Linked DNA regions of Homo sapiens. The main gene of each other region encodes a partner of the protein of the gene in region 2 in a complex. Each region holds a gene or a part of one and is shown on either strand. Other genes may lie near its edges.

Region 1 (7,026 bases), on a different chromosome or scaffold from region 2:
TGGAGATTTGTGTGTAAAACTGTATTAAAACCAACCAACAAACCAATAAAAACCCCTCGAGCCAAAACCCTAACACTCTACCACAGTCCTCAAGAGTAGAACTCTTCTTCTGCAAAGGATGGTTTGACAACCCAGGCCCCTTGCTCACCTGGCAATGCTCCGAAGTGGCCGATGATGGGCAGTGGAGGGTTTTTCTGACCTCATACTACTTTCCCCTCTTTGCAGAGCAGAAGGTCCCAATGAAAAGATAGGAAGAGTGGAGTATGGTTTGGAGGGCAGCCGCATCTATTATCCCAAATAAAACTGGCAATGAGCAGTACCGTTAAAGAGGCAGTCACTAAAAGGAACACAAGTATAAATGAACCAAGCTTAGCTTACCTTTTTGCAACACTGTGAGCACACCGGCCTGTAAACAAAATCATAAATGTTATTTGGCATGATACCAGGGGACGCAACTGGGAGTTAGAGAAGCCTATGGCAGTACAGTTGTAAGTTTCCACAATAAACTGCATAACTCTCCCTTCTTCTATTAGAATGTAACAAATTGACACACTGAATTGCCAAAAAGATAATCTACAGAACTTAACTCTTACACTGTCTCCTATAAAAGGATCAACTTACATGTGTTTGGAATTTTCTTATTTGTCTATCCAGGGATCACATGATAATCACATCTTATTTTTTTTCTGTTCAAACATGACATATTATTAGAATGATCTTAGTTATGTAAAAGAAGTAACATACAGAGAAACATTTTCTAGGTTCAATATCAAATAAATATTTGGCTCACTCTCTTAAGAAATCAATATTCCTAACCTACAAGGATAGCACAAGGTAACGTAACAGAGTGAGTCATTTCTAATTTTATTCCTGTTTAGAAAGATGGTGAAATAAGGAAGATAATTGGTATTTCTCTTACGACTGTTAAATTTATCTTTTCATCAATTACAAAATACCTTACCTCTTACAGAACTGACAGGTATAAGACCAAGTGAAGAAGGAAAACCTCCTGGTTCGGCAACAAAAGCAGAGCTAAAAAATACAAATTTAAGAGGAAAAAAAACATTGCCAACAGCAAATTTCCTAATATCCATGTTTGAATATGCTTTACATCTATATATAGGGGAAGCTGAACAGACAAGAGGAGGAAGACAATTCAGAAATCCTGTTTATAACAGCTGGCTCTGTGATGCTGATAATGTAGCTCTGTATTTAATTATAATTCTATTTTAAAAGGTAATAAAAGGCCACAGCTCTTAAGTGTCTCCTCATCATGGAAGGAATCTGCAGAAGGTTCTGAAAAACCCTCCTCTGTTTCTCAGATACATTTTTTTTTTTTTTTTATGAGATGGAGTCTCACTGTTTCGCCTAGGCTGGAGTGCAATGGCATGATCTTGGCTCACTGCAAGCTCCGCCTCCTGGGTTCACGCCATTCTCCTGCCTCAGCCTCCTGAGTAGCTGGGACTACAGGCACCTGCTACCAGGCCTGGCTAATTTTTTGGTATCTTTAGTAGAGATGGGGTTTCACTGTGTTAGCCAGGATGGTCTCGATCTCCTGACCTTGTGATCCGCCTGCCTAGGCCGCCCAAAGTGCTGGGATTACAGGCGTGAGCCACTGCACCCGGCCTTCTCAGATACATTTTCTTTACAGATCCTTTAAAAGTGTAATGACTAAATGCACACATGGCTTTTTTATTGAGACGGAGTCTCACTATGTCACCAGGCTGGAGTGCAGTGGCGCAATCTCAGCTCACTGCAACCTCCACCTCCTGGGTTCAAGCGATTCTCCCACCTCAGCCTCCCGAGTAGCTGGGATTACAGGCACGCACCACCATGCCCAGCTAATTTTTGCATTTTTAGTAGAGACAGGGTTTCACCATGTTGGCCAGGATGGTCTTGATATCCCAACCTCGTGATCTGCCCGCCTCAGCTTCCCGAAGTGCTGGGATTACAAGCATGAGCCACCATGCCTGGCCACATGCATGGTTTTAGGAAGACATATCGATATTTGTTATGGTTGCTTGAAAACCTTCCAGTTTTGATTTCTAAGGCAGAAACAAAAATGCCCCCTCTTGTGAACGAGACAGCACATGTACTGTCTACTAGGATATGAACATCACACATCCCAAATCCCCTCAAAGTCTGTGCCACCTGGCTAGCAGATAACTCTCCCAGGAGACTATGCATGGGACTGGCCATCCTTCTACTCTTCTGATCAATCAACTTTAAACAGCACTACCTTTCCTTTTTTCAAGGCGGTGTAGATGTCTTTATACTGTTGGTATTTTTCCAGCTCTGCCTTCACCAGGACCTGGCGAATATGCATCACTTCTTCCACAGTAAGAGCGAGGCATTCCACTGGGTAGCAGAATTCCTCCTGAAATTCAAAATGTCACGTGAATAAGAGATTCCTACCCCCTGTTCTGGAAGTGCAAAATTTCCCTTCAGATCAGACCCCTGATTAGTAGCTTCAGAGAAGAGAACAGGTTTCCCAATGACCACTGGGGCAGAGCTGGCTCCCTCTGGGGACCACATCATTTCCAATTACACTAAGACTAAAGATGGCAGAAAACATGTGGGGACCAAGTGATCTACTGAAATTTCCAATAAATGAAAGTTCCTCACGTTTGCTCAGGTATTTTGACTCAAGTAACTCTATTCCGTTAAGCAGGGCTATATTGAAATATTTCAAGCAGGGCTTGAAATCTTGAAAAAAATTTTATTCTAAACCAATTTTGTGTCAGTTGTCTTCTACACCTATGAAAAAGACATTACTTAGTGTTGTGTTGTACATTATATACCAATAGATAAAAAGCAAATCTACAGTGGTCCTTTTTTTTTTTTTCCACAACAGGGTCTCATTCTGTCACCCAGGCTGGAGGGCAGTGATGCGATCATGGGTCACTGCAGCCTTGACTTCCTGGGCTCAAGTGATCCTCCCACCTCAGCCTCCCAAGTAGCTGGGACTACAGGTGCATGCCACCATGCCCAGCTAATTTTTTTGTATTTTTTGCAGAGATGGGGTTTCACCATGTTGCCCAGGCTGGTCTTGAACTCCTGGGCTCAAGTGATCTGCCCACTTCGGCCTCCCAAAGTGCTGGGATTACAGGCGTGAGCCACCATGCCTGGCCTGGCCCTGTTTTTAAAACTCATTTGTGGTACCCAGAATAGCCAAAAGAAGATGGTTAGTAATTTTTACTGACAAGCATTATTTAGTGATCAGTTACATCAGCACACCTTTACAAATCCTAATGGTACGAGTGGAACTGGAACATGAAACTACTGGAGCATTTATATCCAAAAGGCAGTCTCTCCAGGCTGCCCCACAGTTCTCTAGATTTGTTGTTACTTTCAACAAATGCTAAATGTATAGTCAGCAATGGAAAGACTAGAGAAATGTAAAAGATTTCATAATAAATATTTATGTTGGCTGTCTTGTGTTAATGGTTTCCCTACAAGCAGCTGCGGAAGATGTTGATGTAACTGATCTCATTGAATAAGAGCCTCACACCCATCCGCTCCCCATCCGGCCCCGCACTTGATTGGTGGATCTCAGAGAAAGACAGAACAGTCTTGTGCATTCGGACCCTGCCAGGCTGCAAGGGGCCATTGTGGTGCAGTGACACTGAAACTGAATGTTCTCAGCACAAACACATTATAATTCACTCCCACACACACACAACAGCATCGCTCACAGGCACTCAGGAATCCAACACGCCAGTGAGAAAGCACATGACTATGAATGCAGTCAGTTTATGGAGTTTTAACAATCAGTTCTGTCTTTCAATCAGAGAAAAACAAAAATCAATCTAGGTTGCAAACTTGTCAAACATTAGCATTTTACTTAAAAAAGTAGTCTGAAGAACTACTGCTTCTTACTAAAAATCAATGCAAAACCATCTCTGTTCAAGCTAACTTAAGGAAGATTACATTTGCTTAAAAATGCTTTGGGAAAAATCCTGCATTTGAATTTTTAACATGAGAAGCTTATTAGTATAAGAGGACAGGGGGATGAGTTTACTCAGAAAGATTATATCATTTGCTCTAAAATGCCTAAAATACGCATTTAAAAAATTAACGATCACAGTTTTCTCTTTCAACAGGAACTACTTTCAGAGATGACAGAATTAAATCAGCGTGCCTGATACCTACTCTGTTTTGCTCCATCCTCAGAAAAAGAGTAGTGTTAGGTGGGAACAATAAACGGCCTTTTTGAGGGTTAGGCCATTAAAACTGTGCACTAAGTAAGTAGTGTTGGCTGAATACATCCGAATGATGGCATTTCTCAGCTTTTAATGTATTTCAGAAGTTTTGCTCTTATTTTTATTCATCAGTGATGAGTATAAGTAGGGTATGCCTTCTGATGGCTAACGATATGACAAAATGGCTATGCTGCAACAAAATAATGTGGGAATCTAGCACATAACCAGGGAAACACTACTAGATTTATTACGTAGCAAATAACCAGATAGCCAGATTTGTTATTGTTTGTGCTAGCAAGACAGCAGATGGTACCAACTTAACTGACTTTATGATGTGGATAACTGGGCTGTAAACCCTTCAGGCAGATGGTGATTTTTTTCATTTGTAGGGATACGCTAGCATGGCACAACAGACCTGGCAGCTTGCACCTCCCTGTCTTCAGTCTTGAGTCACAAATGGGCTTAGTAAAGCATATTTTCAACTCACTGCTTTGACCCACATGAAAATCCAGTACTTCATGGGATATAATCATTTTTCTTTCGTTTTGAGACAAGGTCTCGCTCTGTCACCCAGGCTGGAGCACAGTGGCATGATCTTGGCTCACCGCAACATCTGCCTCCCGGGTTCAAGTGATTCTTGTGCCTCAGCCCCCTGAGTAGCTGGGATTACAGGTGTGCACCACCACACCTAGCTAATTTTTGTGTAGAGATGGGGGTTCGCCATGTTGGCCAGGCTGGTCTCGAACTCCTGTCCTCAAGTGATCTGCCAGCCTCAGCCTCTCAAAGTGCTGGGATCACAGGCATGAGCAACCGCGCCTGGCCATCATGAGATATAATTTAAAAATAGTAGATTTTTGTTTGCTTTCTTGTTCTTTTTTAAAAATTTTCAAGCAGATTACCCTTTAGTGAAATAATTTCCATCCAGTCAAATGCTAATGTTTTAATTTTGGAGACTTCCCAAGGACAACAAAACTTTAATGCAACATAAAAGAAAATGATAAATAGTTACTAAAATAGTTTTAATTATTTTTTTCAGTTTACAAAAATATTAATTCGACATCTCCAAAGCCAAATTAAACTTCCACAGATCTCGCAGAGCTATTAGCACTCTGGAATGTGGAGGGCACTCAAGGCCCCAGCTAGAGCGGGAGCCCTTCCCCACCACGGCACTGCCTGGGGCTCCCACTGCATGTGTTCGGCCCGTTTGAGTGGCCAGATGTGGCCGGGTAAAGAACCACACTAGCGCACCTCTAGTTCCCTTGCTTGCTCATGTGTCAATGGGACTCCCAGATTCAGGAAAGGGAAGCTAAATCTTAGAGCGCTTTAATGAAGACAACAATGTGCTATAAGACTTTAAACTTACTTCTATGCATGTCACTAAAATTGTTGAGTTTTTTTTTTTTGATGATTATTCTGGCTATATTTTACCATTCAAGAGGGGTCAGTTAGGCAGCACGGAGATTAGACAGCATAATGTAAAATTTTGGTTATTGTGCCACAGAGAGAAATGGGAATAGTCACCTTTCTTTTCTTTTTTCTTTTTTTTTTTTTTTTGAGATGGAGTCTCGCTCTTTCGCCCAGGCTGGAGTGCAGTGGTGCGATCTCAGCTCACTGCAAGCTCCACCTCCAGGGTTCACGCCATTCTCCTGCCTCAGCCTCCTGAGTAGCTGGGACGACAGGCGCCCGCCACTGAGCCCAGCTAATTTTTTGTATTTTTAGTAGAGACGGGGTTTCACTGTGTTAGCCAGGATGGTCTCGATCTCCTGACCTCATGATCCACCCGCCTCGGCCTCCCAAAGTGCTGGGATTACAGGCGTGAGCCACTGTGCCTGGCTGGGAACAGTCATCTTTTATACAGTGTTCATGATTAGTAAAAACTTCATAAATTAACCAGTATTTGAAAATTACCCAAAATAACCATTGCTTTTTGAGTTTTTAATAAACCAAAGAGAGGCAAATTTAAATAAAAACAGCAACTATTAAGTTTACTCTTCTTAATCAACTACAAAACTCAAAGTGAAGGCCAGGCGCAGTGGCTCACGCCTGTAATCCCAGCACTTTGGGAGGCCGAGGTGGGCGGATCACGAGGTCAGGAGATGGAGACCATCCTGGCTAACATGGTGAAACCCCGTCTCTACTAAAAATACAAAAAAAAATTAGCCGGGCGTGGTGGCAGATGCCTGGAGTCCCAGCTACTCGGGAGGCTAAGGCAGGAGAATGGCGTGAACCCAGGAGGCGGAGCTTGCAGTGAGCCGATATCGCGTCACTGCACTCCAGCCTGAGTGACAGAGAGAGACTCCATCTCAAAAAAAACAAAAACAAACAAACAAAACTCAAAGTGAATCCTTTCTTTGCCTAAAGTGGTATATGGCCTTAGTGTTCAGATATCTCTGTTTGGGGAGAATTGATAATCAAATGCCAGCAGGTCTTCAGTAGAGGCAGGAGTGACAGGAGTTAAAAAGCCACCGTGGCACCTGACCACGTGCTGCCCAAGAGCACATCTAAAACGGGAAAAAGGACAGAGGTTTTTCCTGCATTTCATGACAAAGATCAGAGAAAGGAATGTTTTGTGTCTTATTTACATTGAGTCTCCTTTCCATATCAAGATGACTAAGAAAGAGTAACAAAGAAACCAGCTGCGGGGTCATCTGTCAAGGACAAGGTTAGTAAATCCAAGGCTTTAGAGAGCCAGGCCCTGCCTACTGTAGCACAAAGGCTGCTCTGAGCACCTGCTACGTGGTGGCAGAAGAGGCTTCAATATGGTCGTAGAGCTTTTTATTTCACGTAGAATTGTGAAGGTTCAAATAATGATATATTATTCTGT
Region 2 (7,026 bases):
GGGGTAGCTACTTTTATTGACCACATTTTAATTTTCATCTGTGGGCCACCTTTTATTTTGCCCTTATAGGGTCTTACCCTTAAAAGTAGCTTCTTCCATTCATTTCACATACTCTTATTTTTCTTCTTTTCCACCTTCTCTTTATTGTGTAGATTGTTAAAAAGAATGTTTGTAGTTTTATACCCACTAGATAAATTGTAAAAAAACAAAAACAAAATGCAAAACAAATAAAAAAGAAAGATCACTTTTGATAGAAGAAGATTGGAAAGTTTTTGCATTAATTTTTGTGAATTTAATGTTGGTAAGAAATCACATATTTTCTCTTTATCTAAGTGACATTCACGTATATAGTTTTTGAAAAGTGAAAATAATTCACCATAATGATTATCAATCATTAATATTAATGATAGCTATTCCTACTAGCATAAGACTTTGGAAATTTATTTATTTCATTCATTTAGCAAATATATATATGTATATACATTTGTAAGCATATATGTGCATACACACACACACACACACACACACATTGAGCAGCCACATTGTGCTAGGCAGTATTCTAAATAGTAGCACACTGTGCTAGGCAGTATTCTAGATGTAGGTGATACATAGACCATTAAATCATGATTTTGCCTTTCTAAGGCTCGCTGACTAGTGAGGAGGAGACATGACATAAGTGCAGTGCACAGAAATATCTGTATAGATATAGACATGCAAATCACTGCTGGGAACATCACGGATGCAGTGGCTTATCTGCTTGGTGGCAAGGGGTGAGGGAAGAGGACTTGAGAGAGGAGGATTGAACAGAGTCCTGGAAGATCACAAGACCCTAAATAGGTTGAATGTTTGTTTTCCTTTAAAAAAACAAGTGTCTTCTTGGAACTTGCATTTTAGTTTAATTTGCTAAGTATTCCCAAATTTGAAATTTGGGACTCTTAAAAGAGTCCTGTATAGGAACCACCTGGGTTTTGTTGACCTCTCCAGGTGATTTGTTTTTTAAATTGTGCAAAGTAAAATTGCAGAGCTAGTCGTTTTTATAAGGACATCACCTATTTTGTATTTGATGGTTGGATACAGCTGGTTGGTAATCAGCAAATATATTTTTGTGTAGCAGCTTCCGTATGTTTATGTCATTCACTCAGCATTGTTCAGGAAAAGAGGATCAGTAGGTTTTACCTAACTTTGTAACTGGTGGGAAAATGTAGATAGAGAAAGAGGTGAAATAACTTTCTCAAGGTCACACTGTGATTCATTCAGAGGCAGATCCAGAAATAGAAACTGAGTCAATGAATCAAGTCTAATGTCATTATTATTTCTGTTTGGATATACAATGTTTTAAGGCCATATAGAGAGTAAAAACTGTTTATAAAAAATGTGATCAGATTTAGGGCCTTTCTTTAATTAGATTTTCCAGTTCCTGTTTTTAATAAGGTGTCCTCCTTTAATGGTTGAACATCTGGCCTTCCTTGAGCTGGATGAAGGGTGATTGTTGGCCAGAGTGAACCAGATTTTCTCTAAGCAGCTCTCATGGAAACTGTTCTTATGGTGGTCAAATGAATCCAGATTGACACAGGCCCTTGTGTCTCAGCTGTCAACTCTTCATGTCATCTGCCACTACGTTTGCTTCTTTACTCTCCTCTGCTATTTTTTTACGGGTGTCTTGGAAATTACCAGAGGCTTGGGGAACACTGGCATTGTCCTTAGGGAAATTTCTTTTTGGCCTTAATTTTGCATGTATTTGGATCAATTAATTGCCAGCTGCCTTTGAAGCAGGTGATCATTATATCTATAAGCTTCCATAAGCATCTTTTATTTTTAAACCATAGAATGAGGGTTGTCAGCATTACAGGAAGAAACAGATGTTTTTCGCTTTTTACCGCCTTCCAAATGTAGGGAGAAAATACAAGTGAAAAGGGATTTCTATGGCACATGTCTGTGTCTCTTTGGTAGATCTAAAAACATTTAGCAATGAGGGAGACCAAACTTTATCTTGTTTTAGCTATTAAGAAACTGATGATGCCTTAGGCCATTGCATTTAAGTATTTCATAATTAATGTGTTTGAAATACATCTTTTTCAGTGTTTAGTAGAAAAAATGGCGTCTGAAATTCGGGAGGTTCCTTTACATATTAAGTATAACAGAAGCTTGGTACTGGAGTTTTGCAGTTAATTAAAGTTTAGATATCCAACGTGTTAAATTTGTGATGCTAAATCGCTTTTGATAGGAATCTTTCCCAAGTCAATTATGTGCTTATCTTTTTTTTTAAACACATGGAATAAAAGTTTAATCTGTTTTAAAGGGCTTAATGTCATCTTCAGGCACATCATTGTTACATCTTATAAAAACATTAGTGATGTCCTCAACAGCTATTGAAGTGTGTGGGCTGTTGGCTTCAGTCTGTAGTTTCTGAGTTTTTGTGTCTGTGTAGTTTCTTGATTGTTTTCTTGCTGCCAGCTATTTATTGTTATAGCTGCCTTTTTTTTTTTTTTTTGAGACAGAGTCTCGCTCTGTTGCCCAGGCTGGAGTGCAGTGGCACGACTTCTGCTCACTGCAAGCTCCGCCTCCTGAGTTCACGCCATTCTCCTGCCTCAGCCTCCTGAGTAGCTGGGACTACAGGCGCCCACCACCATGCCCAGCTAATTTTTTGTATTTTTAGTACAGACGGGGTTTCACCGTGTTAGCCAGGATGGTCTTGATCTCCTGACCTCGTGATCCGCCCGCCTCGGCCGCCCAAAGTGCTGGGATTACAGGCGTGAGCCACCGCGCCCGGCTATAGCTGTCTTTAGTCTCTTTGCTCCTGTCCCTCAATTTTTTTGTAATTTGACTTTTCTGATCAATTTGCAATTGGCTTACAATTCCTGTAATTATGATATTGGTTACACTTATTGTACTTCTAAGTGCCAGACTCTGTTGGTGCATTACATAACTATCTGTAATCCTTAACAACAGTCTTGAGGTGTAGCTGTTTATCCTCATTTTTCGAATGAAAAAACCCAGGCTCAGACAGTAAAGTAACTTCTTGTCTAAGGGCATTAAGCTAGTAAGTGGCCCATCCAGGATATGTCCTTAGAAAACCAAATCTGTTGTTAATATGTATAAGATGAAACCAAGTAGATCATTGAGCTTTTGGAGGACTAGCTAATTAATAAAGTGCATAGGCTCTAGAACTTGGATTGTGCAACTCTGATTTTGGCCTTTCTAAAGGTTATCTTGAATTTTTTTTTTTTTTTTTTTTTGGAGACAGATTTCACTCTTGTCGCCAAGGCTGGAATGAAGTGGCGTGATCTTGGCTCACTGCAACCTCCGCCCACTGGGTTCAAGCAATTCTCCTGCCTCAGCTTCCAGAGTAGCTGGGATTATAGGCGCCCATGACCACACCCAGCTAATTTTTGTATTTTTAGTAGAGACAGGATTTCACCATGTAGGCCAGGCTGGTCTTGAACTCCTGACCTCAGGTGTTCTATCTGCCTTGGCCTCCCCAAGTGCTAGGAGGCCTATCTTGATTTTTATATCAGTAGAGGGAAGAACCCACTCTAGGAGTACACATTTTCTCATACGGCTTGGTAAATTGCTACATTGGATTTTTTTAAGGCCAGGAGTAGTTTGATTTCCAGCAGAGCCCCTGACAGAGTATAGATGTCCAGTTAATGTCTGACGAATGAAGGTCAGAATCTGCCTGATACGTATAAAATGTCTTATTATAAAAGGAAAGGGGTTTATATGAATGCTATGCTTTCCCCTAAATACTGCCTTACTGGGTTCCATATATCAGAGAAGAATTTGGCGATGTAAGCGGGGACCAGAACACTGATCTTCAATCATTTTAGATGGGTCTGAAACATCCTTTCTCATGGTTTCTTTAGGCCTGTGGTTTGGATTGAAGTCAAGTGCACCAGTAGCTTCAGGGATGGGTTTTAATGACTGCTTTATGAGTTGAGGATGGGCCTAGTTTTAAGAGCTTTAGGCGTTTGGATATAAGCCATGCGTATTTGAAATGGAGCAGGTACTTTTAGTGCTTTTCCTTCTGATTCTTCTGAAAAGATACAGAAAATATACAGTTGGATGAAGGTAGCAGTAGTTATTCTAACTACGTTTATTCTAGGTATATTTGCAATCCTAGTTTTGCTGTTTAGCTAAGTGAGTCTCCAGTAATTTTTCCTCATATCTATGAAGGTAGAAGAATAATTTCAAATTAATACTATTAAGATGAAATGAAATAGCATACATAAAGCCCCTACAATTCTGCCTGGTACATGAGAGGCACTTAACTGGGGCTATTTGCTCTCCTGACTGGATTTATTATCTTAAAAAAAAAGTCATTGTTCAAAGTGATCAGAGCCAAATTTGTTAAAACAACCCTGAAATTGTATACAAAACTTAGCAGGATATGAACTGACCAGATACTAGTTGAGCCCCAGTTTTGTTTTGTTTTGTTTTTTTTTGCAAATTGTTTATGTATTATTTTTTCTTTTTTTTTTCTGGAATTGTAAGCATTTTGTCACTTATCAGATATTCTGTGGTGGGGGGTTGGATAAGAAAAGCATATGATGGGGTGTGGCTGTAAGATTTGGGGGAGGGTGCTGCTTTCCAAAGAAGGGGTGGGAAGAGGAGGCGGTAGCTGACACCCTCAGTGTTTCTGCTCTGCACAGCATCTGGCTGCAAACCCCTGACTTTGCAGCTTTACCTTCCCACGGTCTCCTTCATAAATGCTCTACTTTACACTGTTTTATGAACATGCATTTCATTTTCCCGACTTTGTGCCTTTGTCTTGCAGCTTTACCCTCTTGGAATACATGATTCGTCTCTTTTGCTTTAGCATTTGAAAAGTGCTGATTGAATTCCGTTTCCTCTTTGTATCTTTTCCAGCCAGACCTTACTGGCTGTCATCTCACTTTCTCTGTACTTTACTGTCTAGATCATATTATATATGCTTCTTGGATTTAGGGATTCTTCTGGTCTTCTTTCTTGCCACCCTCTGCCTTTCCTTCCTCCTTGCCTGTTCACCCGATTCCATCCATCCATCATCTCCTCTCCTACTAATCTGTCCACAGATATCTCTTCCGTGCCTTGCTCTGTGCCTGTCAATATGTGTAAAGCACCGACTGTACTGAGGTCTTGATGAATACTTGCTCATTCACCATTTTTGGCAGTGATATAGACAAGTTGAGTATCCAGGCTTCCTACTGGCAATTAAAACTAGTTGAATTGAAGCTGGAAAATTGCTAACCTTTCTGGGCAGTCAAAATTAATTATTTTCAATGAGGTGTGATTGAATCAATGATACTTTATAGAACTTATGTTGATAGAAGAATAGCTATTCTTGTTTCTGCAGGTTAATGTTAAAATAGTAATGACATTACAGCAACTGACCTTCCAAATATAAATGTTATTGTAATGAAAGAAGAGGTAAAGGGAATAGAGAAAATTGTATTCCTCTGTTCATTCCTGTTTTGTATTCTAAGTACTAACCTAATGCTAATAAAAGTTAGCATTAAGGAACCATTAGGAAGAAACAAAAATGTACTGCCTGTGACTTGATAGTTATTAGATATCATTTTAGTGACAGTAGAAACTTTCTAAGGCTTTTTTATCTTAAAATATATGGAAAATATGACCTCAGTCAGTTCGGAATGGTAGTAAAGCAAGGTAGTCATAACATCAAAATTCTAAGAATGAGTAACAATTATTTCTGGATGCTATAATAAGATGCTAACCACACTAGAGATTTATTATCCTTTTGATACCTACTGCTCCACTATGGGTGAGAAGGAGGGAAGAATTTATGTCTTCTTCCTTTGTAAAGATGTACTTGGAAGTGTTGATTGGATAGGAAAATTACTGCCTCTATTCTGTGATCCAGTCAGGCTCCAACCTACCAGGAACCCACTGGAAGCTTTATTATCTGTTACCCTAGAGCTGCAATGGACTGAAAACAGTCCTATTGTTTTCAGGAGGAATGGAATACTTTCTTGAGAAAATCAAGCCTATATTATGTTTCAAAATTATGCTTAAAAAGGCTTAGGCACTACTCAGTTGAGTCTTTTTTTGTACTTCATGCAGAAGGGTTCTTTGTTGTAGTACCTGGTGATAGAGTGGACACATACAGGAAGAAATTCTGTGTCATTTAAATGGTTGTTTTAGGTACGCAGGAGGGGAAAGAATGTGTTTCAGTAAGCTAGTGTCAGCACTATGGGAAGAGTGCAGGCTGAGAACAATCTATTTCCCTTTTCCGTTTTACCACCAGCTTCCTATTAGGGCACAAGGCAATCATTTCTTGCCTCTTGTTAATACCCTGGCTTCCCAGATTGGAAGAGTGAATGCAATCTTGCTGGGAAGCGTCTTCCTTCAAGTCAATTTCAGCACTGTGGTTCTATAGATATGGTGATTCCAGCAGGTACCTTTTCTCCCTAATAGGGATGCTCTGTGTATTTAGAGCTTTCCTTTATTGGTAGAGCTGAAGAAAATTCCTATGCCGGAAGACCCGTTTATACCACGGAGTAATTGATGGTGAGAGTGGTGATGTTTTGACTTTGATAGTTTTGATCAATTTTTGATTCATGCTGAAGGAGATTTGCATTGGTTAGACTGTCATTATCTGACAATAGGACCGTGTGTGTGTGTGTGTATGTGTGTGTGTGCCTGTGTGTCTGTGTTGTGTGTGTGTGTGTTTGAGACAGGGTCATGCTCTGCCACCCAAGCGGGAGCGCAGTGGTGTGCTCATGGCTCACTGCAGCCTCAAACTCCTGGTCCCAAGCAATCCTCCCACCTCAGCACCTCAGCTTCCAGAATAGCTGGGACCACAGGCGTGAGCCACTATGCCTGGCTAATTTTTTTTTTTTTTTTTTGGAGAGACAGGGTCTCACTATGTTACCCAGGCTGGTCTCGATAGGGCCTTGTGTTTTTGAACACTGATATAATGATTATGTATGATGGTTGATCGTGTGTTATGAAAATGTATGAAATGGAAAGCTATGTTATATAATGTATGGCTCGAAGATTTAGAATATATGAAGGCTTTCTAATATT

Evidence for each region. Proteins that work in one complex are often made in the same cells at the same time.
Region 1: the proteins of FMN2 (region 2) and SPIRE1 are in contact, whole or in part, in a crystal structure (PDB 2YLE), measured with the Homo sapiens proteins. Residues at the interface, in NP_064450.3 of Homo sapiens: Ser1702, Leu1703, Lys1705, Ile1706, Lys1707, Pro1708, Arg1709, His1710, Gly1713, Ile1714, Lys1715, Lys1717, Ile1718, Lys1721, Thr1722; in NP_001122098.1 of Homo sapiens: Gln51, Pro52, Ile53, Asn54, Glu127, Ile131, Tyr134, Lys135, Asp138, Leu141, Lys142, Glu143, Asn144, Glu145, Glu146, Arg147, Glu148, Glu154, Ile157, Asp158, Ala161, Asn162, Thr163, Val164, Glu165.

Annotation. Positions count from the first base shown.
Region 1 is NC_000018.10:12,452,107-12,459,132, forward strand, and holds part of SPIRE1 (protein spire homolog 1), read right to left. Parts: intron 2,378-7,026; coding exon 2,240-2,377; intron 1,033-2,239; coding exon 962-1,032; intron 407-961; coding exon 379-406; intron 338-378; exon of another isoform or gene 286-337; coding exon 149-285; intron 1-148.
Region 2 is NC_000001.11:240,094,883-240,101,908, forward strand, and holds part of FMN2 (formin-2), read left to right. Parts: intron 1-7,026. UniProt on the Homo sapiens protein: Actin-binding protein that is involved in actin cytoskeleton assembly and reorganization. Acts as an actin nucleation factor and promotes assembly of actin filaments together with SPIRE1 and SPIRE2.